Linked DNA regions of Homo sapiens. The protein of the gene in region 3 interacts with the protein of the main gene of each other region in a pairwise test. Each region holds a gene or a part of one and is shown on either strand. Other genes may lie near its edges.

Region 1 (9,837 bases), on a different chromosome or scaffold from region 3:
AATGAAGGCTTCTCAGAGGAGATGGCATTTTCTCTCAGCTTTTCAAAATGAGAATAATTTCATAATTTCAACAGGTGAATGTAGAAGTGAGGAGAAGATGCTAGACACACAGTAAAGCACAAACAAAAGGATAAGGATTTGAAAGCATATGACTAATTTGCGGGGTGTGTGGCATTGTATTGTGTTTGAAATCTGTGGAGGTCGGTGGAGGGTAGATGGAGCTGAATCTGGAAAGGTGGGTTGCAGTCATGCTGCCTACCACACCATTAATAGCCATCTTGCAAATTTCTGTCCTTCACAAGAGTAAGTCAACTGGTATAAACATCACTCTTCTATAGGGGTAGGGGTGATGGAGATAGGAAAGAGTGTGGGTGTAGGGCTCCAACTCAATAATCTTTACATTAAATAAATTACTACTTAATAAAGGATTTTTTAAAACCCTACATTTCAAAAATGTGTATTACCCTTCCCCAAAACACAAAATGTGGAGCTATTCTTTATTCTGTTTTCAAGCATATCACACTATATTCTACTTGACAATGTGCTTAAAATTTCTATGCCTCTTTTTTTTCTCCCAATGGGACAATATTTTTTCCACCTCAAGGTCTCTGCACACACATTGCTTTTTCTACCTGCTCTTAAAATCTCTGCATCCTTCTTACCTGTCATCTCTCAACCTGTGGATCCCAGTGTTGCCCACCCTGACTACTTTATCTAATTAGATCCCTCTCCCCACCCCTCTCTCCTCCATAATTCTTTATCCCAGCTCTCTTCATGCTTTATAGGACTTTGAATTTTATTATTTCTTATTAATTTGTTCCTTTCCATAGGCAATGACTCTCTACCCCATGTTTGTGAGCTCCATGATGGCAGGAACTTCAACTCTTCTATTCACTGCTGTATGTATATATAATACCTGCTACAGAGCCTAACAGATTGTAAAGATTCAATAATTGTTATATTATTTTCAGCTATAAAGACATATAAAACCATCAGACTTAAAGGTTGTATCTTTAATAAATATGATTTTTTAAAATTTTCTGAGGGCAATTCCCTATGTAAAGAGTGTGTAATAAGAAGGTAAATATGCTTGAAAATATGTTCGACAATAAGACTTAATTAAATGAATAATTATATTGTTATATATAATAATATAAAAGCATACTATTATATGTCGATATATAATTTACATAACATAAAGTCTTAATATTTGTTTTGCTTAAAATTAGTGATACTAATAAATTAATCCTTTTCTGATACTCAAGAGATATATCTGTATTTTTCTCCTCTGAAGAATATATATACTTTTATATAAGAAATATAAGAAGAATAAAAAATTCTCATACAATTTCCTTATAACGTATCTTCCCTTCTATTTTCCTGTCCAAAGTAAGGTAGAAAAGTGACCTCAAATATATTTTTCTTACAGAACATTGAAGATTGCTTATCATTTCAAAATCAGGAATACCAACAGAGCAGTCAGGGTTGAAAATGGAGAAACGGACCATTAGAAAACTCAGACAGCTTTCTATACTGACAAAAAAGTAAACACCCAACTTAAAATTCATTAAGTGTAAAGCAAATCCTCCTTCGCCACCCAATATGGCACAAAACATTTATTGTTCATATTTATAAAATAATCTACTGGCTATATTCTTAAGAAATACACACAAGTTTTAATCATTGTTTATATTAAAATAAGCTTATTTAGTAGATAGTATGTTAATTTACTTTATGTAGACAGCCAATTTGGAGCTGTATGTGGTGAAAACTGTATTCTAAAAGATAGTCTGTTTGATGACATAAGAGGATAAGCACAATTTAAGTCATAATAGATTGATCCTCCGTCTATCAACGGTGATTAAGGCAGTCGAGTTGGTCTCATTACACAAAGGTGGGCTGAATAAGGCTCTAGGCTAATGTGGAAAATTAAAATCCATTTTTTTCTTAATGGCTCCTACACTGGTCTGAAAATATGATTGATCCCAAATTCTCCAACAAGAAGTTCTTATTTTACTTATATAATTTTATTTCTCTAACAGAACTTCCACTCTGATTTTCTTCCTATCTTTGCCTTTGAAGCTTGATAGTAAGAGCAAGTAATCTCCAATTTCTTAAATGTGACAACAAGAAATTGTCCTTTTAAAATATTCAGCATTAGCCTTTAAAAAAAAAGCATCAAAACTTTTGGTCATCAATTTGCAAATGTAAGGACACGCACTCACTCTTTGAGAAACACATGTATAGCTTATGCTTCTATCCCCCGTCTTTGGAACAACAGGGCATTTAAAACAAATACAGCTGGGAGCCGACAATGTAATGTGCTGGGCAAACATATACTCCCATTAACGTAAATAGATTCTTCAATGTTTCCTACCAACCCCACTTGGTTATGAAAAGCCAGCAATGCCCATTTCCCCCACAGAACACACCACATGCTCGCAAAACAACCAGCCTTAGCAACTGGATGCAGAGACAGGCAGAGAGAGAGACAAAAGCGCCTGGCTCCTGAATAGGATGCCTTCTCAGACCCTGGCATTTCAAAGGCAGTGAAAGGTCATCCTAGGTACTAGTTTCTCAAAGAAATACCTGTAGTAAGGTAACTATTCTAGTCACCTTTATATAGTAACGGCTTGTATCTCAGGCAATTCGCCAGTTTTTCAATTAAAACTGACACATATTAGGGATTTTTACTTCTGCCCCCCGCTCCCCGCAATTCGGATTCTTTCTTTAGACTCCCTGAGCCTCTGTCCCCATCCCAGGATTTGACTGAAGGGCTGCAGAGCCCAGGGCTGCGCGCTAAGCAGCCTTCTGCTGAACCTCAGCGGACTGGGCCATAGTTCACACACCCTCCACTCCTTCTACAGCAGCTCCCGCTGGGGGCACCGCCAGGATATCCACATTTGTCCAAGGTCTGGGAACCCGGGAGGTTTCTAGGAGACCCCAGAGACCAAGTGAGGCCAGGCCCACCCCATGGAAACCCCCACCAGCTCAGATCAGACTGCGAGCGGTGGCTCGACCCCGGGTGTGGCAGGAAGGGGTGCCCCGCGTTCCAGAGCCAGTGCCAGTCCCTATCCTCCCGGGAAGCCGAGACTCAGGGGGAACAGGTTTCCCAGAGCCCAGCCTGCAGGGACGCGGAGGGCAGGAGCCGCCGGCGAGGAGCAGCCAACTTGCCATCTCTGGCGGCTGCACTTCTCGGCGGCTACAGGTTGCCCGACAGCGGACTCCAGGGTCCCCGCGACGGCACCCAGAGTGCTCAGAAGGGAGGCCGGGGCCGGGGTGGGCCGGGAAAACCGAGGGAGGGAAGGAGCCTGGAGAAGCTCCGTTTAGGCGGGGAGGGGGCGACCCGGGGCGCATCTCCCGACCATGACCCCCACAGACCTTGGCGCCGCAACCTGCGCTTCTTGAGGCCGAAGATGCGCACTTTGGAGAAGATATCCACCAGGTTGCCGTTGCAGAGCCCGCGGTTCTTGCTGGGGCTGCTCCGCCTCCTGCTGGCAGACGGCCGGTCCCAGTGCTGCTCCCGCGCCTGCCGCTTCTGGCGGATCAAGCCGCTAGCGATGGCCGCGGCCATGGTGGCCCCGGGAACGGGTCCGGGGAGGGAGGGCGCGGGAGGACGGCGAGCCGGGGGCACCGGAGGGGAAGGCGGCGGCGCAGACCGTGGCTCGCCCTCGGGGCAGAGGAGGGGGTGCCAGGCGGGACTGGGGAGAGGGGAAGGGGGGCTCAGTCCTGACCGGGACCCATCGCCCTCTCCGCGGGGCGCGGGGCCAGGCGCGCAGATGCGCCCAGGGCGCAGCCGGACGATCCCGGGAAGCCGGACGTCGTGGCCGCCGCCGCTTGGCCACGTCCGAGTGGAGAGCGGGACCGCGGCTGCGGGCGCTGCTGGTCACCGCTCGTCGCAGGAACCCCGGCGGGGGTCGCCACCGCCACTCGCGCTGCCTTCTCGCCCTGCCCGGCTCCCGGGCGGGAGGTAGAGCCGGCCGGCGGCTCCCCGGGCGCCGGCTGGAGGGCGGGTCCCGGCAGGGTCTCTGCGCGTCCGTCGGTCCGGGTCGCGCTGGGCAGGACTCAGCGCCGGGCTCCAGCTGCCCGCGGGCCGGTGCCGCCGCCGGCGCCGCCCGCTCTCGGCTTCTGCCGGTGATTGTCAAGTGCTTTGGAAATCAGCATCTGGAGAGACCAATCTTCTCCCCTGAGATCTCTAATCAAACGCTCCGTTCCCACCCCACTACACCCCCTCCACCTATGTGGTCCCCCTCCTGATGTACCTCTTCAGAAAGAAACAAAACGTATAGGTAATAATGATTTAAAAATAATAAGAAAGAAAGCTAAGATGGATTGCAGGGATGGGGTGCTAAGAGGCCGAGCCAAAGCAGGTGGAATTGAAGGAACATCGGGGCGCTTTTTCTTAGATGCAACTCGCTGGTTCCCGAGCCTTCCGCGGCTTGGTTGGGGCTTCTCGGTCTTAACGTGGTTACCGGTGCACTGAAACTCTCAGCAGCGGTTGGAGGGCGAGGTGGTTTCCGCCCTCCCTGCTAATCCCTCCAGCACCAACGCCCCCCCGTCGCCACCCCCAACCCCGGGTTGGAGGGAGGAGCCTCCACTCCTCACCTAGTCCACCCAAACTTGCAGGACCCTCCCTTCTGCTGCAGGAAGGGTAGGTTTGTCATTTTGAAAGGCTACACGGAGCAAAAAGGAGGGAATGGAAAGAGAGAAGGTGTGATTAAGCGAGATAGAAAGACCCCACTCCCAAATATGCTCCCCAGCCCTGGGAGGAGGAGATGACAGCCGCAGTAGCTGCTACAGAACAGCAGCTGGGTAGGATAAACGCCCAGGAGAATGTTGAAGAAGTCAGGGCAGAAATATAAGGGGCAGAGGAGGGTGTCACACTATTCCAGGGACAGTGAAAAGCAGCCAGACAGGACACTCCAATTTGAGCTGTCATCTTCTGGTGTCCCTGGGCAAAGAAGCTCTGTCAGGGAGCAAAGCCATCTGAACTGTGTCTGAAATTCAAATACAACAGCCGGCGTCTCCTCCCCCTTGATTTTCTGTCTGTGTCCCGACAGCGGTTCCCTCCTGGATACCTGAAAATGTGAAGGTCCAAGAGAAAGGGCGGCAGTGGAGGGCACCCGAAAAAAACAAAAAGCCGGGGGGAGGTTGGGAGAGAAACACTTCATGCTTGGATGAACACAGTTCCGTGGTTTCTAGGATACACCAGAGTGGCAGAACCAAGTGCAGCTCTGGCTCCGGGCTTCTTACTTTTCTCCTCTTCCCTTTACACTGCTTTGCCTATCAGCTCAGGCAGCTAAAGAGAAAGAAATGCTCGAACTAGACTTCTGGAAATTCAGTGTGAAGCAAGGGGGAGAGATGGCTCACTTGGTAATCAAGAGACTTGCAACAACCTTCTTCTCCAGTGACTGCTTTAGAGCTGGAAAGAGGGCAAGCACACTACGCAGGCAGCCCTGGGAGCAGTTCTCAACCAAAACACACTTTCTCTTTGTCTCAGGAATAGGCAGTAGAGTACTCGCCACCAGGCAACTGGGGGGAAGTGCAGCAGATTACAGGGAGGCTGGGCACCTTCTGCTCTAAGCAACTTATCCACAGCTTCTCCATGGAAGCAGCCACTGCTGGGCTGTTGTTTGTTACCTTCACTCCACATTTACCAACAAGTCTCCTTTTGGGAAGGAAATGCAACCTGATGAGAGTGTGTAGATTTAGATCTAAGGCAGGGATCATTGGCTTTACGACGGTGTTTGTCATATATTACAAAGTGTACTTCTGGAAGTTTATTTTCTACACTTTGCTATGTTACATCTACAAATTCTACAATTATTAAAAGGAATATGCTAGAGTTGTTTTGCTAGAAACTTGCAATCCCTAGTCACTCATAAAATAGCAAAAGTGAGAAAAAGGGGAATGCTAATTATTTTGCTCTGCCTTTCCCTCTCTATTTTCAGTTTCATATGTCTCTTTTCTTCCATTTTTTTGTGAGTGTGCATTTATGTTGTGTTGCTGTAGTCCTGCTTAAAAAGGGAAAGATGTCTATAGAGAGATGAAAATAACTAAATGGCTATTGAGTGTGTCTGTTGTTTTAATTCACTGAAATGAGTCCTACTGAACATTAAGAGTCACTACTCTTGGTTTCTATTATTGAAGAAACGCCATTTGTACATTTCAGAAGTTCTAGATTTGAATTTGCAAATGACTGTAAGATTAAAGCATCCAGGTTTATTATCAAAGGCTTCTTGCAGTGAGTGTTTCAAAAAAGTAAAATGTTAAGTATAGTGACCTCTTAAATCTAGTATGACTTCCCCAACACACCTAGTTTATTTTTAAAGGTTCTTTAAGCCTTTTGATGTATGTGCCAACAATATTAATTTGAAAAGAGTGACATTAAGCTTCTTGTTCTTATAGCCGTGCCTCTATTTTTGCAGGCATTTTCTTATGCTGCAGTCTTTCCCCCAAATCCTTGGACTTGGGGGTCAGGAGGTCAGTTTTTGGCCCTCTCAGAGCCCTCCCTTCGTTGTTCAGCAGCCTCGGACCAGCCTGACATTCAGCACCGCGGACAGGGATCCCGCCCCAGCCCTACCTCTCCCAGCAGAAGCAAGTTCGCTGATGGAGAAAAGCGCTGGCTGTGAGGGTCTCTGACACTTTCCTCCCCTAAAAGCAGTTTCTCACTTTTTTCCCTCATGATGGGAAGGAAATTGATCTTCACAGCTTCTACCGACGTTAATAACACCTTGGAACACAAAGCCTTTCAGCTTTTCCATAACCGAGAGATACTCTTTCTTTCTCGAGCGTCCCGACCCCTGGCGCAGCGCCTGAACAGCGGACTCCGGAGTCTCCGGGCATCTATTCTGGCTGTGAATTTCAGGAGCCTCAAGCGGTCATTTCTCTTCAACGTAGCTTCCTATTTTAAGGGATCTTGGAGAGGGGGGCAGCATTGGGATAATCAAGGTCTTTTAGGTTAATCCCTGCGTTTTCATTTTACCTCCCCAAAACGCTGTTTAGTTGTTTACGGATGGAGGTAAGTGAAAGAAAACGCAAGAGAGCCATCTGCTGTCTTAAGCTGTGATAAAAGAATGTGCAAAGCTAGGGTGAAAACCAATTCAGGGCCGGTGAACACAAATGTAAAGGTTACTGTAGTTCAGAAAATAATTTGTCACTCATCAGAACCTCCTTGGAGTTGTTAATTTTACCTTTGACGTTATAAAGAGGAAAATAAAGTACGGCCCAGGTGGTGTAGCTCCTCACCAAGCTATTGGGAGCCTGAACTCTCATTTCAGAGGTTCTTGGTTCATTTCTTGACTCTGCAACTTCCTAGCTGTATAATGACCTCCAAGGTGTTGCTTTAGTCTCTCTCAGCCTCAATTTCTTCATCTCTCAAATTGAGGTGAAAACAGAGCCTCCTTTTCAACTGCTGTGAGATTAAATTTAGTAAATAAATGTAAAGATCCTAGTACCACATCTGGTGCACCCTAATTGAAAATGACAGCTATGACTGTATTATCATCATCTTCCAGTTTACTCATTTCTATCTTGTAAATTCTTTTGCAGTTTCCATGTTTTTTCAATATCAAAATATATGTATTCCCTATGTATATTTCCTCACCACCACCCCCCCACAGTGGATGCATGACAAGATTTTAGATAATTCGAAACATAAGAAGTTATTTTAAATTTTGACGAAATAAGTCCCAAGTTCAAACCTTAGTTATTATTAACTACATTTGTGAACTGAGTCCCGTAAGCCTACTTTCACACCAACTGATTGATAATAAAAACATTTCTCTACCTTTCAGAGACTATGATGAGGGTCTATGAGAAAGTACTTCTAAAAACACTAAAATACTATACAAGCATCAGTTTGGAAGGTAATTAGTACACTGTGCTTGATGGTCTCCTGAAGATGCTATGATCCTTTTGGTCCTCCAACTTTAAGTATGTTGTTCCCTCTACCTGGAAAATTTCTATTGCCCTATCCTCACACTCCTCTTGATGATTAAAAAAAAAAAATCATCAGCTAAAGAGTAAGGCATGAGCCACCATGGCTTGCCAACAGATTTTTAAATAAAAATAAAGAGACTTTTTGGCTCTGTCTTGATGGAGCTTATAGTTTAGGTCTCAGCATAGATATCTTCTCTGGGAAACTTCTTGCCACCTACCCCTAATTAACACTGAATCTAGGGCACCTTCTAAAAACTTCATCATTCCTCTACTAACACCAGCAATTGTTGAATAAAGAGAGAGCTATATTGAAACTTCTACAAAGATGTCTGATAGGTAAGTGTCTCATGCTTAAAATGGCCATGAACGAACTACTGTTCTTCCTTCTTAAACCTGTTCTTCCAATCCTCGCCACTTCTGAAATGGCAACTTCATTCTTGTTCCTCAGGCTGAAAACTTTAGTATCATATTAATGTCATTTCTTTCTCTAATACCCCGTATATATTTGTGTAAGATCTATTCTGTCTATCTGCAAAATATATCCAAGATATCACTCTCACCACCTCCACTACTACCTACCACCATCATCTTTTGGGTGATTATACTACAATAGTAACTACGAAATCCCATACTTCAAAACCAAAGTCCTCACTGTAGTGGCCTGCCATGGCTCATGTGATTTGTGCCCCATCTCTGCCTTCAGTTGTTCTCTGACATCATCTCTATTCATCTCCCTTCACTTACCACTTGCTGTCCATCAAACCACCTGGCATGATCCTATGACAGGACTTTTATACTTGCTGTTGCATTTGACTCTCATCTCCTATGAATCTTTCCTCACATCTTTGCTCATAAATCTATTTAAAATTACAACTCATAAACACAGACATTTCCTTCTTGCTACCCTGCTTTATGGTTCTACATAGCACGTACAACTTTTAAAATTTCCATGTACTTTCCTTATTTATTTGGGCTGTCTTCCCCGTTTAAAATATAAGCCTATAAAGGTACAGACTTTGTCTCCTTTGTTTACTGCCACATATCCAGTGTTTAAAATGGTGCCAGGCAAGTAGGTGCTCAATAAAGATTTGTGTATTGAAAGGATTAAGACATTGGATATCTGAACAAATAGACAGTTAATACCAAATAAGAGGAACAGAAAATCTTGCTTAATCCAGTCTGTCAAGGATGAAGTACCCCATGGTACCTAAAGAGATCCTTGATCTCTTTAAGCACCAAGACACCTAAAATTCTATCTGGATTACACACAATCTCAACTTCATAAATAGGATACACCGAAAATACTTTAGCCTTTGCTTGATGTCCTGGGCTCAACCAAACATGACAAACAGTTTGAGTTCTGAATTTCAACAGTGACACCCTCGGGGCTTACTGAAGGATGTGAGACTGTTTCCATTTGAATCAAAAAGGACTTCTGGTATTTGTGATTCACCACTTCTCCACACTTCCTAACACACACACAGTTTTCTATCTTGCCTCCTCATTTTCAGATTGTTGATTGATAAATTGACAATATGCCCTTTTTCAAATTTGCTACATCTAATCATGTAATCCATTATAGAATTTGACACCAGATAAATGTATTTGTTAAAATTATCTATAAATATTAAAGTATATAAACTCGAAGTGAGGAGAGTATACAAACAAGAAACAGCCTTATTGAAATTGAATTGATTATTAAATTTTTTCCTATTGCATTCTGAGTTCCATTATGTTCTGGATGACTTTGTGGCATACATTGTTTGCCTTCCAAGTAGATAAGTTTCGATACAGTTTACTAAAAAAAAAAAGTGCCTGGATTTTGTTTTTTATTTATCCTTCAAATGAACAAAAAAATCCAAAAAACATATTTTGTACATTGATATATATATTAAA
Region 2 (9,170 bases), on a different chromosome or scaffold from region 3:
TTATACCATATTCTAGGACACACACACAAACACACATACCATCACATTTACTGAAATATATTTTCCACTCTGGTTCATTTTTCTTCGAATGCTAGTCACAAAATTGACTTTCTGACCTTTTCGTGGGTTATAATCTATAGTTTAAAAAAGACTGCTTGGGTTCTGGGTTATTTTGTATTACCCAGAATTCTCACCTTTTGGTTTATGTGCAGATGTATTACTTTGACCTCATGCATTCAATCAATAATAATATAAAAAGGTAGGAGATATTTTTAAAAACAATGAGATCTTCTAAAAGGGGATGGAGGGTCTCAGAGCTGGGGGTCTGAGAGCCAGGTGCCCAGCCCCGTTCTGAAACTGCTAGGCATTATACAAATAGTACCAAGTTGGTTTAATAAGATTCTTAACATATAGTTGTGTAATGGAGACTAAGGGAGGGTTTGCTTTTTATATTTTGTTTAAACTTTAAAAAAACTGTGTATTACTTCTATAATTAAAAAATAAAGATACTTCAACCACTCCCCATCCCTGGTGGCTCTCCTCTACTTCAGAGGCCTACACTGCTATCTCCCTAAAAGCAGGCAATTTCTCCACCTGTGGGGAGCAGGTGGTGGGAAGGGATACTGAGGGACCTCAAGGGGCTTTTGCTTTCTTGTACGGTAAGAATATGAGAACCACATACTAACAGCTTCCTTGTGACCCCAAATAGCTCAGGGGTACGTGTAAAATACAAACATGCACTATTATTTTCAGTAATATTGGGTGACTAATTTTTTTCTTTTTTTTTTTGAGACAGGTTCTCACTCTGTCACCCAGGCTGGAGTACAGTGTTATGATCACAGCTCACTGTAGCCTTGGCCCTCCCTGGGTTCAAGCAATCCTCCCACCTCAGTTTCTCGAGTAGCTGGGACTACAGGCATGTGTCACCACACCTGGCTAAATACTTTTCAGTAGAGACAAGGTCTCACTATGTTGCCCAGGCTGGTCTTCAATTCCTAAGCTCAAGCAATCCTCCTGACTCAGCCTCTAAAGTGCTGGGATTACAGGTATGAGCTACCGCACTGGCCAGGGTGATTAATTTTGATACATAAATTAAGTACATGCATTTGTTTTTATGTTTGGATTAACAAGCCTGTAATTTGGTGGTCAGCTTAATATCTCCAAAAATATAACAGAACCAGAAAGTATCATTTTTACCACTCTGTGTCTCAGTTGCACATTCAGGCAAGAGGACACCTTTCTGAAATAGATGGACAAGTTCCTTTTACACCTTCCTGCTTGGCCTTTGTCTTTGATCAGTCTGGAATTATTTTCAGAGACCTAGGCGGCCCATGAGTCAAGCAGGGTGGGGTGGAGGGAGACAACTTACGAGAAGTTCAGCATGGGCTGGCCCACGTGGGAGATGTGAACCTCCTCCAGGTACTGGAAGGGCTGCAGTGTGGGGTAGGTCCCGGCTCCAGGTGGGTCCGACAGCCAGGTGCCCAGCATCCAGGACAGTGGCTCCACCACTGGGTTCATCTTGGGGGGCTCTGAGGACAAAAGAATGAGACTATCAGTGGCCTCCCTCCAACCATGCCTTGCTGAGCTTTAAGCAGAATGCACGTTCCATATCGACGCTTGCTTCTGGTGGCCACAGCTAATCCTGGGGGACCTGTCAAGAGCGGGAGAAAATGGTCAAGCAACTGTAAATGTCATAGTGAAAGATCCAGCTTCAGAAGCCTCTGCAGTTCCTGCAGAGAAAAGAGATCCAACAGGGGCCAGGCAGGGCGCAAGCAAAGAGGCCTACACTGCTATCTCCCTAAAAGCAGGCAATTTCTCCACCTGTGGGGTGCAGGTGGTGGGAAGGGATACTGAGGGACCTCAAGGGGCTTTTGCTTTCTTGTACAGTTAAGAATATGAGAACCACATACTAACAGCTTCCTTGTGACCCCAAATAGCTCAGGGGTCCTCCATGTCCTACAGCAAGGCTGAAAGCAGCTCACACGGGAGGCACGGTGCCCTGGCGTGAAGAGTGTGTGAAGGAGACAAAGAGCATCAGGGAGAAAATGAAAGGGGATGCAGGGTCTCGGAGCAGCCAGAGTGTGAGGGCCCAGGGGCAGGCGGGGTTTAAAAGGGAAGTAAGACCCCGCTTCCCTGAGGAGGGGCTGGGGCTTCACAGCAGCCTGTGTAGTGGCCAGGAGACCCCTTTAGAAGGTCTCCTGTGGGGTTCAGTCTCTCATCCCACTAAGTGTGAAGGATGACACCACAGGCCTGGAACTCAGAGGTGGGGGTGCAGTGACAGGACAGCAGGGAGGGGCCGCTGGGTTGGCTGTTCTGCTGGGCGAACTCAAAGGGACCCCTGCTTCCTGCCTCGCTCAGCAAGGACTGGGTGCTCCCGAGCGGCTTTTCAGGATTCACTCACATGACCCTCACCCTGGCTGGATGCACGGGCCCTGCTCTTACTCATTTTCTAAGGGAGACCTGTGCGGGGACCACAGGAAAGCCCCACTGCATGCTACCCATCAGGGGCGCTGGAAGAGAAGGACTGATCCCCAGAGGCAATCCCAAAGACCTGCTTCCCAGGCCTGCTTAACCCTCAAGTCTCAGTGCTTCAATTGACAGAACGGACACTGACACCCAGGAGCAGCAGCAGGGACAGAAGCAGCTCTGTGGCCGCACAAGCCTCATCTACGGAGCCCAAAGATGCCCAAGCACAGAGACCGGCCTGCACATCAGGACTGACCCCCGGCGTCTCCTCCAGGCCCGCGCAAGCAGAAGACGGACTGACGGGGACAGGATCAGGACTGACCCCCAGTGTCTCCTCCAGGCCCGCGCAAGCAGAAGACGGACTGACGGGGACAGGATCGGACTGATGCCCAGTGTCTCCTCCAGGCCCGCGCAAGCAGAAGACGGACTGATGGGGACAGGATTGGACTGACCCCCAGTGTCTCCTCCAGGCCCGCGCAAGCAGAAGACAGCTGACGGGGACAGGATCAGGACTGACCCCCGGCGTCTCCTCCAGGCCCGCAAAAGCAGAAGACAGACTGATGGGGACGGGATCAGGACTGACCCCCAGTGTCTCCTCCAGGCCCGCGCAAGCAGAAGACGGACTGACGGGGACAGGAGTTCTTGGAACCATCGCAGCTTCTGAAATTACACAACCTTTGGATTATAAATTCCAGGAAGTCTGGGAAAAGAAGATCGGGGGAAAGGAAAGCAAAGGCTCTGGGGGTGGAGGAGACCACGTCCAAGAACAGCTTGGAACCAAGGAGGGCCGCACATGTGGCCTGGCCCAGTGGCCGAGCCCTGGGGCCCAGAGTGAGAACCGAGGGTGGAGAGCAGGTAATGAGCACTCTGCCTGCTGGCTGCACAGGGCAAACATAGGTGACCTGAAGCAGGAGAGTGGGAGAGTCCGCTCCTTTTCCAGACTGGCCTGTGGTCTTTCAGTATTTCCTTTTTTGTTTTTCTTAAATGATGATTTAAAAATTTTTTATATCAGTATTTCCTCCTCAGACTCCCGGTGAAAAGTGGGAAGGTGAGGATGGGAATATTTGGACTTCAATAAAACTTTCCTAATTAGACAATAAGAGAATTTTTAAATCAAGATTTTCGTTGCAATCTTTCACGGAGATAAGGAATAGAAGCTTCTGAATCCAATGTGTGGCCTCTGGAACGAGGCTTGTGATCTATCATAGCTGATCAATTCTTTCATCATTCAACGTGCTGGACACTCTTCCAGGGAGAAGCTGACGGAACAGTCATACATCCCTACGGAGCATACATCCTAGCGAGGGCAGACAATACACAAGAAATGAGTGAATGATGCAGAACTGAATGTACATTAGGAGATGAGGCAGAAAGGGAGACAGGGCTGTTGGGGCACTGTGAAAACCTACCCAAAAGGGACAAGGACACCCTCCCTGAGAAGTGTGCACAGACCAGGCAGGGGATCAGGGTCCCTGCAGCTACCCTGGAGAAGAGCAGACCAGGTGGAAGTGCCAGAGACGGAGGTCCTGGGTACGTAGGCCTGGTCTTGCTGGAGAGGAACAGGAGGCCAGTGTGGCCAGGGGAAGGAGATCCTCACCCCTCGGAAGGGCCGTGACCTTGACTCTGAGCAGACAGAAGCCCTCGAGAAGGCTGAGTGGGAGGGACGAGGTCTCTGACTGCAACCACAGGAAGCCAGGGAGGGCAATGGCAAAAACCCTTGTGGCAGAGGAGGGTGGCCTGGGCCAGGTGGCCGTGGTGGAGGCAGTGGAAAGGACCTAGCTTCTGGATCTATCTTGAAGGCAGAGCCACCCGGATGTGCTGATGGTTTGGATGTGAAACACGTAAGAAAAGATGGTAACGGAGGTTTCTGGCCTGAGCAATTGAGAAGACAAGTTACCATTAATGGAGAAAAGGAAGAATGAGAAGAACCTTGGGAGGTGTGAAACAGCAAAACTCAGTCACCTGGGATAGCCCAAGTCCTAAGATGGGCTAAACAAACACCATAATTTCTCAGACAGCCAGCTATAGCCTTGGAGACCTTTCAGTTTGGTAGACTTTATCCAGCTCAGCACTGAAAAGAAAGAGGCTTTGGGCCGGGCGCAATGGCTCACTGAACCTGTAATCCCAGCACTTTGGGATGCCGAGACGGGCAGATCACCTCAGGTCAGGAGTTTGAGACCAGCGTGGCCAACGTGGTGAAACGCTGTCTCTATTAAAAATACAAAAATTAGCCGGGCGTGGTGGCACACGCCTGTAATCCCAGTTACTCGGGAGGCTGAGGTACAAGAATTGCTTGAACCCGGGAGGCGGAGGTTGCAGTGAGCCGAGGTCGTGTCACTGCTCTCCAGCCTGGGCGACAGAGACGTTTTCTCAAAAAAAAAAAAAGAAAGAAAGAGGCTTTGCAAACCTCAGGTTTTTGGGCCGGCTCTCTGGCCTGTGCGGAGCACACCCCACAGCGACTGCCACGGGGCTCTGGCTCTCCTGGGACCGGGTGGACCCACTTCCACTGGTGAGCGCAGCCTGCATGGGAGCTGAACCCTGTGGGAAGCGGCACCCCGGGCGCTGGGGAGCAGCGATCCAGAGTCCAGGTTCTGAGCTGCTGCACCGGGGCCGCGATCTCCACCCCTCACGCCCGAGTCCCCGGCACGGCCACCACCGGCCCCTGGGTCCCGAGGGCCCCGAGGAAGAGGCCAAGGGGCCTGGCGGCGCCCCCCAGGGTCCCAGTGGAACAGGGGCACCAGGGCCGCGGCGCCGGGCATGGCCTTCACACTCCCCACGAGGCAGGACAGCCCCGGGCTAGGGTGAGGGGCACGCGCCGCAAGTCCTGCCTCTGCTCCCGGGCGGCCCCCTCCAGCCTCCGCCGGCCCCGCCCCGGAAGCGCAGCCCCGCCTCAGGCGCCGCATCTCCGCCCTCTCTTGCGCCTGCGGGACCGGGAGGGCCGCGCTCGCCCCCCAGCGCCAGGGTCACGCCACCGCGCCCTGTTTGGGGAGCGGCAGAGGAGTCAGGGCGGAGGCTGGGCGGCGCTGGGCGGTGGGGCGCGCTCACTGGCTGCCACCTCACCTAGCAGGCGTCACAGGGCTCACTCAAGAGCTCCAGCAAGAGCAGAGGCGGGAGCCTCGCCAGCCCCTCCACAGACCACAGCGACCGCGCCCCTCGGCCCGGAGGCCCCGCCCTCCCCACTCCTGCTTCCCCAGCCACGGGGTCTTCTCCCGGCCCCTCATCTACTTGGCAGACGCCTCTCACCGGCAGCCTCTGCCTCCCCCTGGTCTTTCCCTCCCACCACCCACCGTGGAGTCCTCTCCGGGAGGCCCTGTCCTCCATCCAGCGCTCCTCAGAGGGGACCGGAGAGGAGGCGCTCCTTAAATGGGGAAGAAAGACGGACAGAGCCAGGGACAGCGAGAGACGGGACGGGGACAGAGACACAGAGACAGAGAGACAGGGCCAGAGAGACACGGGGATGGGGCCAGAGACGGGGCCAGAGACAGAGACACAGAAAGGGATCTTACTCTTTCTTCCCTTAAAACCAGCTTCTGGGGGTCTCCGAGGGGGACTCTCAGGTAAGTAACAATATTATCACCTTCCCTCCCAAGAATTAAAAAAAACAAAAATAACGAAAAAACCTTTTCCCTGAACTTGATTTTGAGGGAAAATAGGTCACAGATACAACCCACAGCCACCAAAACACACATACGGATGCTGTGAGAAGTGGTGGGTCAGTGCCTCGCTGGAGGACAGGAGGGGCCTCTGGGAGCTGGGGGGGTGGCCCCTGAGAAGCCTCAGGGTCTGGCCTGGCTCAGAGGCCTGGGGCGGAGTGGGGAGCCCTGGACTTGGGAAGCCTGGAGGCTCTTCTGGCCCCCGCTCTGCCACAGGGAGCTCCTGCAAACAGCAGGCCCAGGGCACCCCACGCGTCTGCCCAGGACACCCCAGGTGTTCGCCCAGGTGCTGAAGGCCCAGGCTGGCCTCCATGCAGGGTTACCCACCACCCGCCATAGAGAAGTAATGCGCCACTCCGAAAGAAAGGGGTGCTGCCGGCTGGACGCAGTGGCTCACGCCTATAATCCCAGCACTTTGGGAGGCCAAGGCGGGTGGATCATCTGAGGTCAGGAGTTCGAGACCAGCCTGGCCAACATGGTGAAATCCCATCTCTACTAAAAATATAAAAAACTAGCCGGGCGTGGTGGCGGGTGCCTGTAGTACCAGCTACTAGGGAGGCTGAGGCAGGAGAATGGCATGAACCCCGGAGGCACAGGTTGCAGTGAGCCGAGATTGTGCCACTGCACTCCAGCCTGGGTGACAGGGTGAGACTCTGTCTCCAAAAAAAAAAAAAAAAAAATTAAGAAAGAAAGGCATGCTGCTCCTGAAGACCTTCTGCTTCTCCAGCAATGGACTAATGGACTCTAAGACACTGCCTGAGTTCAGAGATGGACAAAAGGTGACAAGACACCAAGTGTGAACAAGAGCAGCAAAACATACAAACTGCAAAATGTTGATGGGGCAAAGGTGAAACTAAGAGAAAGGGTCTTGCTCAGTCACCCAGGCTGGAGTGCAGTGGCATGAATACGGTTCACTGCGGCCTAGACCACTGGGGCTCAAGTGATTCTCCCGCCTCAGCCTCCCGAGTAGTTGAATGAAGCTGCTCCATGAAGAAAGACCACTAACTAAACATGTAAGAACTCAGGAGAGAAACGGCAAGGAAAGAGGAGAAGGTGAAACATGACCTGGCAGAAGTCGAGAAAGTAAAAGAAAAAAAATCAAGCCACCACCCAAATGAAGTGGAGATTGGAAGCAGCACAGGGAGAAACAAACACCGGGAAACACAGCGGAACACAGAGGACAGAAATGAGTTAAAAAAAAAGACAAAAGATAGAGAAATGGAAACAAAGTTAGAAGGACGGGAACGCCTGGCACACTGCTGATGGGGACGTGAACTGGCACAGCCTAGTGAAGACCATCTGGCATGTGCCTGAGAGGTTAAGTGTGGAGCAGTGGCCCAGGACTGCCACTCCTGGAGACATGCACTCCCAGCAGAAATGACACACCTGTCCCCACAGGACGCTGCCCATGAATGTTTACAGCAGCACCATTCCCAACAGCCCCAAAGTGGAAACAACACAGATGTCCGTCAACCAATGAGTAAACAAACTGCAGTATATCCAGACAATGGAATGTTATTTGGCCATAAAAATGAAGCACTAATATAAGCTGCAATTCAAATGGCCCTTGACAACACACCATATGAAAGCAATCAGGCTCAAAAGAGCACATATTCTGCAATTCCATTTCTGTGAAAGGTGCAGAACACACACATCTACAGAGACAGAACGTGGGTCAGTGTTTCTCCACAGCTGCGTTCTGTGGCAGAAGACGCTAGAGTCACACGTAGAAGGCGCATGAGGAGGGAAGGTGAGTGGCAAGGATGCTACGGCTGGCCACAGCGATCCTTCCAGATTGCAGGCGCGTGAGCTGGCTCACTGACACGTGCAGTGAGTGCGAGCTACAAACTAGATTCCGAAAACTCAGTCCAAAAAGTCTTCAAATAATTCAATAATCTTATAGTATGGGTGGTTGCCTGTTGAAATAATTTTTAGATAATATCGGGTTAAATAAAATATATTATTAAAATCGATTTCACTTGTTTCTTTTTACCTTTTTAATGTAGCTATTAGAAAATATTAAACTACATAAGAGACTCACTCTCTAGACCTTTTCGACAGTGCAGGAATGGAGTTTTCAACCCTTGGCACCCAAGGAGCTTTGTTTCTATGTCTTCTCCCTGAGGACATTACCAGCAGCTGGATGTCATCAGGAGACAATAGGGAAATGATGCGGAAAGAAACCTCCGTAAACACTGAATGTACTAAGCCAAAAAAAAAAAAAAAGCGGTTATAGAAACAACAAAAAAAAACTGGTTATAGGTGGTAGATGCCTGGTCGTACAGGCATGACACTCAACTCATAGGACCCTTGAAGGGGCAGAACTCCCCACTGGTCTTGTCCCTGAGAGCTGACACCACAGAGGCTTACAAATGAAGTAGCAGTGGAAGATTTCATTTTAAAAACTGGGCCGGTTGCAGTGGCTCATATCTGTAATCCCAGCCCTTTGGGAGGCCGAGGAGGGTGGATTGCCTGAGCTCAGGAGTTTGAGACCAGCCCAGGCAACATAGCAAAACACTGTCTCTACCAGAACTACAAAAAATTGGCTGGGCGTGGTGGCACGTGCCTGTCGTCCCAGCTACTCAGGAGGCTGAGGTGGGAGGATCGCTTGGGCCTGGGAGGCAGAGATCGCAATGAGCCGAGAGCACATCACTACACTCCAACCTGGGTGACAGAGCGAGACCCTGTCTCAGAAACAAAACAAAAACAAAACAAAAAAAAGTAAAACACAACAAGCATAATATAAAATAAGATGACAGAACCAAGACTAAAAATGCTTGAACTTACATATGAAAAAGCTTTTCAAGGCCGGGCATGATGGCTCATACCTATAATCCCATAACTTTGAGAGACCGAGGTGGGTGGATTGCTTGAGTCCAGAAATTCGAGACCAGCCTGGGCAACATAGTGAAACCCCATCTCTACCAGAAATACAAAAAAATTAGCCAGGCATGGTGGTGCGTGTCTGTAGCCCCCGCTACTTGGGAGGGTAGGTGGGGAGAATCACTTGCGCCCAGGAGGTTGAGGCTGCAGTGAGCCAAGATCGCGCCA
Region 3 (5,236 bases):
AAGTAGATATTTAACAGATTAATATGATTGTCTCAGAAAGAGGTCAGTTGAGTGCTAGGTATGGGTGTGGGAGGAGGATGGTGTATGTCCTTGCTAACCAGAAAAGTCGTAGGATTGTACCGCTGCCAATCCTAATTTTATTGCTCTCATTTCTAGTTCCTCCACAGCATCTAGGTATGGCAAAATTCAATATATAAGGCCAGTAAAGAGTGTTTCAGACAATACCATCTGACTAATTGGCTGGAGTTCTTGGTTATATGTCTAACATGTTTTATGATCTACAGTCTTAATTTAGGTGATTGGCAAAGATAAAGATATTTGTAATAGGACTTCAGTGCTATTTCTGTAAGAAAAATCTAGTTTGACAAATGAAATCATGATCTAGGCTAATAGCATATTGTTTCGAAATTAAATGGCTCTATCTTGTACTTCATGCTCAATTTTGCTGAGAACCAAAAACTGCTCTAAAAAATGAAGTCTATTAAAGAAAATAAAATTATCTGATTAAGTGGCAAACTATGGCATTTTTTGCTTAAAACTTTTAACTTCTTGACTATCCATGGCTTAGTAATTAGTTTGTGGTCCCCTTTATGTACAGCGAAAGACATTAGAGAAATACGGTGTTGAACTAAGCAGCTGGAATACCAGCCTGTCATTAAACTTATGAAGAAAAAACTGACACTGGAGTGATGGACAAATAGATGTGCTAAGATTTTTTTTTCTGTAAGGAAAAGCAGTTTTTGAAAAAGAATGCCTCATATTTACATTTTAAAATTAAAAAATAACTTGTACACTATGGTTTATGTGAAAGATGTTTATTTTCTTTCAAACAATATTAAAACAAATAAATTACGTGCAGTTGAGTAACACAATGAGCACATAATACAGTTAACCTTTTAAAAGGCACTTCTGGCATAATCACTAAAGTAATATAGACAATTAGACAATTATTTGCTTTGACACTTTATTAATTTGACCATTCATTTCAATTTTCTTTTAATGTTCTTCAGTGAATTGTTTCATTTATAAACACTTCAAAGTTCCATCATAAAATATGCCTAGATTAACTGACTTATCTTAATTCTATTTACTATGGAACCTATCACCAAAAAAATCTAATTTAAAGGACATTTTAAAATGTTATCCTTTATTTGGGTACTAAACTAATCACTCCTCCACAGAGTCATAAGAAAGTGTTTGAAATAAACAAAAATAAATGAAGTGGAACTGGTGATTGATATAAATCTTCTAGAAACAAAAGTTGGGTAAGCCAGAGGTTTTTTGTTATTGACACTGTTTATTCTTTTTAAGTGATTTTGTTCTTTTATTATTTTTAATTATACAATTTTAAATAGTATGCTTTTATTTTAAAATACTTTAAAGTGTTTTTTAGAAAACAGGCAGGGTCCAGTTTTTTTTTTTTTTTTTTTTTTTTTTTTTGAGACGGAGTCTCGCTCTGTCACCCAGGCTGGAGTGCAGTGGCGGGATCTCGGCTCACTGCAAGCTCCGCCTCCCGGGTTCACGCCATTCTCCTGCCTCAGCCTCCCAAGTAGCTGGGACTACAGGCGCCCGCCACTACGCCCGGCTAATTTTTTTGTATTTTTAGTAGAGACGGGGTTTCACCGTTTTAGCCGGGATGGTCTCGATCTCCTGACCTCGTGATCCGCCCGCCTCGGCCTCCCAAAGTGCTGGGATTACAGGCGTGAGCCACCGCGCCCGGCCCAGGGTCCAGTTTTTTAATAAAAATTATAATGTTGTTAGCTTCCCAATACTAAGTCAAAATCAAAACACGTTCTCTAAAGAACAACCACAATTACTTTCAATTTTATCATAGATATATGTATAATCCTAAGTATCAGCTCACCTGATTAAACTAATTTTCTTATAAAGAAAAACACCCTTCACATATCCTTACATAAAGATACTATTAATGTATATGATTAATGTTGAAACCTAACTAGCTGAACAAATGTTCAACAGATTTTGGACCCCATATTCTACATTTTCAAGTTTATAACAAAATTAAGAAATTATAAAATACTAAGTATAAAACTTATGTCATAAATTGAGGGCTATGTTGAATTTGAAAGCTGAGATGATATCTTTCTTAATAAATGAAATATTATAAACTGCAGTAGAAACAGTACATCTTTACCGGTTATTTATTTATTTATTTTTATTTTTATTTTTTAATTTTTTTTGAGAACACATGGACACAGGAAGGGGAACATCACACACCGGGGCCTATTTATTTATTTTTGAAATAGAGACAGGGTCTCCCTGTATTGCCCAGGCTGGTCTAGAACTCCTGCGCTCAAGCAATCATCCATCCAGCCTCGGCCTCCCAAAGTGCTGGGATTACAGGTGTGAGCTGCCACACCCAGTCTTTACCAGATGTTTTTTTAAGTTAATATAAATTGCAGGATTTGATTAAAATATTCTGATACAATAGTCAAACTCATATTATTTTATGCATAATCTGAAAAATACCAGATGTAATTGACAGTAATTTTTTAAAATGTAAACATTTCCTTTCCTTTGTGTAGTTACGTTATTGTTAACTAAAAACAGTCCATGTATAAGACAAGTAAGTATGATTCCATCCCTTTCCGTGTAGTCATAAGAATGACCATAAGCAAAAGTTAAAATTACATTCTTGATTTGTTTAAAAATGCAAAGCAGATATTGAGAAGCCATCAACTGTGCCTGACGTATTTTCTAAATTATTTTTGTTAATCAATTACATCAACATGATTTCACAGAGACCTAAAGATGCCACATAGAGTAGTATGGCATATAGACTCCTCAGCTGAAAGTTTCTATCACGGCCAGGCGCGATGGCTCACGACTGTAATCCCAGGACTCTGGGAGGCCGAAGCAGGCAAATTACTTGAGTTCAGGAGTTTGAGACCAGCTTGGCCAACGTGGCAAAACCCCATCTCTATATAAAATACAAAACTTAGCCAGGAGTGGTGGTGTGCACATGTAATCCTAGCAGAGGTTGCAGTGAGCTGAGATCTCACTACTGCACTCTAGCCTGGGCGACAGAGCAAGACTCTGTCTGAAAAAAAAAAAAAAAGTTTCTATCGTGTTAATATACTAAAATAAAATTTCCCTGAGATGAAATGTCTTGCTGGTCCACAGGAATAACCATAAAACTCTATTCAGATTTTAATTATAATGAATTATAATTTAATCTGACATCCACTTAAAACAAGTGTTAATTTTTTTATCATTAGCTGACTTGTGCTAGTATTTTTAAGCGGAATATTTCTAAATTTTTTTCTAAACCAATTTAATCAGAGAACTTGTTTAAAATATAACTTTCTAGAAACATACAAAGATGCACATGAGCAGCTACTTTAGCAATAACTTTCATGTTCTCTTCAAGTACAAAATCGCCGATTTTTATGCTCTTAAAATGTACTGACATTTAATTACTTCAAAAGTAGAGAAAAAAGCATTTAAAAAGTAAAAAATCTTTCCAAACACCTGTGTTGCTCATGTCAGAAGATTTCTACATTTTTAAAGTTCAGGCAAGCATTAGTTTAAAAGATTTGCTCCTTTTCTTTCATTCATTTAACCAGGTTGGATATCACTCATGTATTTTTAGTTAGGAAGCCATTCACATGACATAACTTCTCATTGAATGCTCTCAGAAATGCTGCTGAGATAATCTTCAGACTTCATTATAAAATTTGTCCATTCCTGACAAATGTCCTCCATGGAGAATTCTTCACCACCATATTCCAGAGGAAGAATGTCTGGGAAATGCTGAAGCAAGCTTTGTTTGTAGTTGTTCCCATGCATGTGAATCTGAAATAGCCAAAACACTTTAGAAGGAAACCGCATTAGATGCATTTCCAGTGGAAAATCAACCTCATAAAACAAGGTATTCTAATAACTTCTAAAATGGAGTGTATAAATAGATACCACATCCTTTATTCCTCTGGTTATGAATCTAATAATTTTACTTATGTTTAGGTTGTATTACTGTGGATCTAATAACCTTACTGTTTCTTGGATTTGCATTCTTATAACTGCATAAAATTTATAAAAAGTTATTTTCCTCTTTCATAAGTAAATTTTTAAAGATTAAATAAAGTTATTTTATAAATTCTATTCCCTTATGTGCAAGTGATTCTTACCAAACTAATACCTTGGGACTATTCTATACACGATAAAAATGTACTAGCTGGTACTAATTCATATTAAGTAGAAGCATATATCTGAGCACACAATTAAATCTATGAGAAACAATTTATATGGTACAGTCGATGGATACTGTTAGTTAGTATAAAGTTAAGAGACAGCCGGGTGCAGTGGCTCATGCCTGTAATCCCAACACTTTGAGAGGCCAAGGCAGGTGGATTACTTGAGCTCAGGAGTTCAACACCAGCCTGGGCAACATGGCTGGTACAAAAAAAATACAAAAATTAGCTGGGCGTGGTGGTGCAGGACTGTAGTCCCAGATACTTGGTGGGCTGAGGCAGGAGGATTGCTTGAGCCCAGGAGGTGGAGGTTGCAGTGAGCCAAGATCGTGCCACTGCACAAAGTGAGGCCCTGTCTAAAAAAAAAAAAAGAATTAAAAGAATTAAAAAGTCAAATTTTAAAAAAGTATTAAAAAACAATTATGATAGTTGAGAACCTTAACTTTTCAAATATTTTAAACTATAAAATTGATCATAGAATGCCCTGAAGTTAAGAGAAAGCCGTAGAAACTTGAACCAAAAGCATACCTGCTAAAATAAATAAATAACCTTTTTTCACTTTCTAGGGCAAAATGTTCCTCTATGTATTCAACAATCATTTAATAAGCATCTATTATGTGCTGGGATATGAGGTTTGATGGATGAAATGAGTTTCCTATACTCACTTAGGAAACTCACAAAGCCAATCTTTAATTTTTTCTGAAATATGTAAAATATTATCAGGTAATTGAGAAGAAATTCTATCTCCTCAGGAAGGGGCAAAATAAGAAAATGTATGGGGCATTGCCAAAAAGTTAAAAAGGAAAAAAGTGGCTGGATCAGAGTTTTTTTCTCCCTATTTTGGCAAGTCTGTTTCCCGTCAACTAACTTTCACTGACATCCTTCCCCTAACTTCTCAACTTTTTACTTTTGCTTTTTTCTCCATATTCTCCTATTTCTTAGGTTCAGTTTATTCTTGTTTTTGTTTTTATCTAAAATATTACTCAAAATAGAAATAGTTATTTTTAGATCTCTAAGAATTAAAC
Region 4 (4,864 bases), on a different chromosome or scaffold from region 3:
CACGCCCAGCGAATTTTTTTGTATTTTTAGTAGAGACGGGGTTTCACCATGTTAGCCAGGATGGTCTCAATCTCCTGACCTCGCGATCTGCCCGCCTTGGCCTCCCAAAGTGCTGGGATTACAGGCGTGAGCCACCGTGCCTGGTCTATTATATTTATTTTTATTTATTTTTTTGAGACAGGGTCTCACTCTGTCACCCAGGGTGGAGTGCAGTGATTCGATCATGGCTTACTACAGCCTCGACCTCCTGGCCTCAAGTGATCCTCCTGCCTCCACCCCCCAAGTAGCTGGGATCACAGGTGTGCACCACCATGCTTAGCTTATTTTAAAATTTTTTGTAGAGACGGGGTCTCACTATGTTGCCCAGGCTGGTTTCAAACTCCTGAGCTCAAGTGATACTCCTGCTTTTGCCTCCCAAAGTGCTAGGGTTACAGGTGTAAGCCACCATGCCTGGGCTATTATATTTTTGAGACAAGATCTCTCTTACTCACGATCATGGCTAACTGCAGCCTTAACCTCCTGGGCTCAAGCAATCCTCCTGCCTCAGCTTCCCAAGTAGCTGCGATTATAGGTGCTGGCCACCATGTCCCGCTTATTTATTTATGAGACAGAGTCTTCCTCTGTTGCCGAGGCTGAAGTGCAGTGGTGCGATCTTGGCTCACCAAAACCTCCATCTCCTGGGTTCAAGCGATTCTCCTGCCTCAGCCTCCTGAGTAGCTGGGATTACAGGCACCCGCCACTACAACCAGCTAATTTTTGTATTTTTAGTGGAGATGGGGTTTCACCATGTTGGCCAGGCTGGTCTTGAACTCTTTTTTTTTTTTTTTTTGAGACAGAGTCTCGCTCTGTTGCCCAGGCTGGAGTGCAGTGGCACAATGTTGGCTCACTGCAAGCTCTGCCTCCCGGATTCATGCCATTCTCCTGCCTCAGCCTCCCAAGTAGCTGGGACTACAGGTGCCCGCCACCATGCCTGGCTAATTTTTTTGTATTTTTAGTAGAGACGGGGTTTCACCGTGTTAGCCAGGATGGTCTCGATCTCCTGACCTCGTGATCTGCCTGCCTCAGCCTCCCAAAGTGTTGGGATTACAGCCATGAGCCACCGCGCCTGGCCAGTCTTGAACTCTTGACCTCGGGTGATCTACCCGCCTCGGCCTTCCAGAGTGCTGAGATTACAGGCGTGAGCCACCAGCCTCACATGCCACTTATTTTAATTTTTTTTTTTTTTAGAGACAGGGTCTTGCTATGTTGCCCAGGCTGGTCTCATACTTGTGGACCTCAGCCTCCCAAAGCACTGTGATTACAGGCATGAGGCACCACATCTGGCCAGGGTGTGGACATCTTTGGGGCCACTGTTCTGCCCGCCTGCCAATCAACGGAATAGAATCGAGAGTCAAGAAGTAAACTCAGGCATGGTGGCTCACACCTATAATCCCAGCACTTTGGGAAGCAGAGGCAGGCAGATTGCTTGAGGTCAGGAGTTCAAGACCAGCCTGGGCAACAAAGCGAGATCCCATCTCTACAAAAAAATTTAAAGAAAGTAGTCAGGTATGGTGGCATGCACCCGTGGTCCCAGCTACTTGGGAGGCTGAGGTGGGAGGGTCGCTTGAGCCCAGGAGTTCAAGGCTACAGTGAGCTGTGATTGACCCACTGCACTCCAGCCTGGGTGACAGAGTGAGACCCCTGTCTCAATCAATCAATCAAATAAAGAAGTAAACACCTGCTTTCTCCTTAGCAATGACCCCCGTGGAACCCAGGAGATCAAACTCATTTGTTTGCCACTGGTCTCTCTCCAGCACCGGAGGAGCGTGAGCCCCAGGGGGCACGGACTTGTGTTTTTTTCTGCTGTGTCACTGATGAGGAAACTGAGGCCCAGCAGTGAGAAACTGGCATGAGGTGGCAGAGAACCAGGAGGCCTCCTGGGCTCTCGGCCCCACACACCAGGGTGTCTGGCCTGTAAGGTAAGTGGGAGTCACTGAGTGGAAGGGGCCCCAGAAGGGTGGGGCCGTCAGACACAGGCCAGGCAGGCAGCAAATCAGCAGATTTATTGAGGCAGCAGCGGCAGTGGGGAGCAGGGGTGTGGGGAGGGGGCGGGGCCTCCCCAGGGTCCATGAAGTGCTGGCCTTTCCCAGGCATGCAGTGTGCGCAGCCGGAGGGGGATGCGCAGGGACTGCGCTGTGGGCGCCGATGGTCAGCCATGGTCAGTCTGTCCGCAGCCAGCTGCCCTTCTCCTCCACCTCCTTGGTCACTACCAGCAGCACCTCGCACAGGCCCTGGGCCAGCGCAGCCGCCAGGAAGGCCCTGGGTGGGAGAAATGGGGAGACTGAGGCTCGGCCAGCCTGGGCATTCCGTCTGGGGAGTGGGGTTTCAGGCCCCTGGTCTTGGAATCGCCTCTGTGGGGCTCACCTGACTCCGTCCTCATCCCCCAGGGCCTCGGGCGCCCGCAGCTTGGAGTCCAGGTTGTAGTAGACACCGTCCACCTGGCGCAGGGCCACCCAGTGCCGCCGGCGCAGCGGCAGTGACAGCAGCCCCAGCGACACGGGCGAGGGCAGGTTCAGGATCAGCCCCAGTACCTGGGGCAGGGCCAGCTGGGACAGGGGCCTGTGTGGGCAGGGAGGGGACACTGCCATCAGGGCCTGCTCCGCCCGCCGGTGAAATGTTGCTGAACATGTGGGGCCCAGGCTGGTGGTGGTGAGGGCCTCCTGAGCCCACCCAGAGGTGTTCCTTAATCAGCCACCCTGGTTCCCGACACTCATCCGTTCACCTGCCCACTCAAACCTCCCACCCATGCGGCCACCCAACCAGACCTCCCACCCACCCACCCACCGTCCACCCACCCACCCACCGTCCACCCAACTCACATCGGCCCTTCACCAACCACCATCACCCTGTCTGTCCAGCCACCCACCCACCAACTTACCAACTCCTCACACAGCCACCCAGGATCCATGCATGATCCGCCCACCCCACTGAGCCTCCCAGCCACCAGCCAACTTCCCAATGACGATTCACACACTCACCTCCCATCTATGCATTCACTTCCATCCCTCATATACACCCGCCCCACCTCCCCGTCAACCACCCAACCACCATCACCATCCAACTAGCCATCTACTGTTCACCACCCACCACCCACCCACCCACCCACACAGCCGGCCACCACCCAGCCAGCCATTCACCCAACAGTGGACTCGCCATGCCCCCAATCCTCACTCACTCTTGACCCCCCTGCCATTGGTCTACCCCTCATCCACCAGCCACATGCCCAGCCACTGGCCAGCCGGCCATCAAAACTTCCCATTCATCCACCCAACTCCCCAGCCTCCTGTCTGCTGCCCATTGCCCAGGAACACCCATCACTTCACTCCCCCTGACCCAACACATCCAACGGCCTACTCAGCATTCACCCAGTAACCATCATCCACCCAGCATCTCAGCCCATCGACCACCTGATCTCCCCCTTTCAACCCATCAGTGCCAGGCTTCCCACATTCATGCCAACCTCCCCCAGCCACATTCCCCTCCCTGCCCCCCAACAGGCTCACACTATAGGGTGCCCTCTGTGCCCGGCCCAGCACATGCTGTGCTGCTCTGGGGCCTACCTCCTCCTGTCCCACCACACGGCGGCCAGGCCCAGCCCCTGCAGAGCGGCCATGATCACATTGACATCATAGTTGCCGGTGCCCAGGAGGCTGCGATGAGGGTTCAGCCGGGAGTCTGGGGCCAACCTGGTAGTGGGGGTGGCCAGAGCTGAGGTGGGGACCCCTGGAAAGGCCTCCCCACAAAATGGGGGTCCCAGGGGCCACAAGTTGCCTCAGCCTTTGACTCTCCCCGCTTCAGACCCCACAACTCATCCACCCCCAAGTCCTGCCTCTCCTGCCCCAATTCTGCCCTGTCCCCAAGTCCTGTCTCTCCTGCCCTGACTCTGCCCTGTCCCCAAGTCCTGCCTCTCCTGCCCCGACTCTGCCCTGTCCCCAAGTCCTGCCTCTCCTGCCCCAACTCTGCCCTGTCCCCAAGTCCTGTCTCTCCTGCCCTGACTCTGCCCTGTCCCCAAGTCCTGTCTCTCCTGCCCTGACTCTGCCCTGTCCCCAAGGCCCCAGATGGGCTCTGTCTTCTCCCGCAGCCTCCAGCCTCCCTCCAGTCCATTCCCACACGGCCCTGGCCCTCTCCTGCTCTCAGCTCTCCCATGGCTCCCCAATGCCTTGGACAAAGTCCCTGTCCCTCCGCCAGTCCCTTCCTCTGTCCTTCAAGGCCCACCTCAGATGTCACGTCCTCTGAGAGGAGCCTCCTGACCTCCAGGCTGGATCGGGGCCCTGTCTGGGCTCCCCCAGTGAACTGAGCCACCTCAACGATGACAGCTGCCCGCATCACCCTGATTTAACACTGCTTGCTTCTCCCACGGGGTTGCCCTCACCCCTCCCCTGCTCACAGCCCACTCTGCTGCCTCATTTCCCCCAGGACAGAGTCCCACAAGGCCCTGCGTGGTCTGGCTCTGGTGGCCTCACCTCAGAGCCTCAGCACCCTCCTTCCTGGTCCCCTGTCCCCAGCCACATCCCCGGTGCCCACCGCCTCCCGCCCCACCCCCGCCAACCTTTCCTCCAGCTCTTCCCCTGCCTAGGAAGGCTCTTCCGCCTGTCACCACTTGTCTCTGGGCCCTGCCTCTGAACAGCTGCACCTCTGTTCCCTATCTGGACCCTGGGCAGGCAGGACATGGGAGGAAAACGCTCGTGTGTGTGTGTGTGTGTGTGTGTGTGTGTGTGTGTGTGTGTTTCCCTCACCACCCTTAGGCTGGCACTTGTGTCTGAGTCATCTCAGGGTCTCCAGCATGGCTTTTGTATGAAAGAGCTGATGGGTCCTTGTTGCGAAT

What was found.
Region 1: the proteins of TTPA (region 3) and FGF14 interact in binary tests that used the Homo sapiens proteins (3 or more experiments, as listed by UniProt).
Region 2: the proteins of TTPA (region 3) and THAP4 interact in binary tests that used the Homo sapiens proteins (3 or more experiments, as listed by UniProt).
Region 4: the proteins of TTPA (region 3) and JOSD2 interact in binary tests that used the Homo sapiens proteins (3 or more experiments, as listed by UniProt).

The regions. Positions count from the first base shown.
Region 1 is NC_000013.11:101,913,072-101,922,908, forward strand, and holds the start of FGF14 (fibroblast growth factor 14), read right to left. Parts: upstream 3,875-9,837; 5' UTR 3,575-3,874; coding exon 3,382-3,574; intron 1-3,381. UniProt on the Homo sapiens protein: Probably involved in nervous system development and function.
Region 2 is NC_000002.12:241,604,945-241,614,114, forward strand, and holds part of THAP4 (peroxynitrite isomerase THAP4), read right to left. Parts: intron 1,530-9,170; coding exon 1,370-1,529; intron 1-1,369. UniProt on the Homo sapiens protein: Heme-binding protein able to scavenge peroxynitrite and to protect free L-tyrosine against peroxynitrite-mediated nitration, by acting as a peroxynitrite isomerase that converts peroxynitrite to nitrate.
Region 3 is NC_000008.11:63,057,610-63,062,845, forward strand, and holds the end of TTPA (alpha-tocopherol transfer protein), read right to left. Parts: intron 4,568-5,236; coding exon of another isoform or gene 4,382-4,567; exon of another isoform or gene 3,817-4,381; coding exon 3,643-3,816; 3' UTR 1,879-3,642; downstream 1-1,878.
Region 4 is NC_000019.10:50,503,975-50,508,838, forward strand, and holds the end of JOSD2 (josephin-2), read right to left. Parts: intron 3,726-4,864; coding exon 3,600-3,725; intron 2,599-3,599; coding exon 2,404-2,598; intron 2,299-2,403; coding exon 2,199-2,298; 3' UTR 2,024-2,198; downstream 1-2,023. UniProt on the Homo sapiens protein: Cleaves 'Lys-63'-linked poly-ubiquitin chains, and with lesser efficiency 'Lys-48'-linked poly-ubiquitin chains (in vitro). May act as a deubiquitinating enzyme.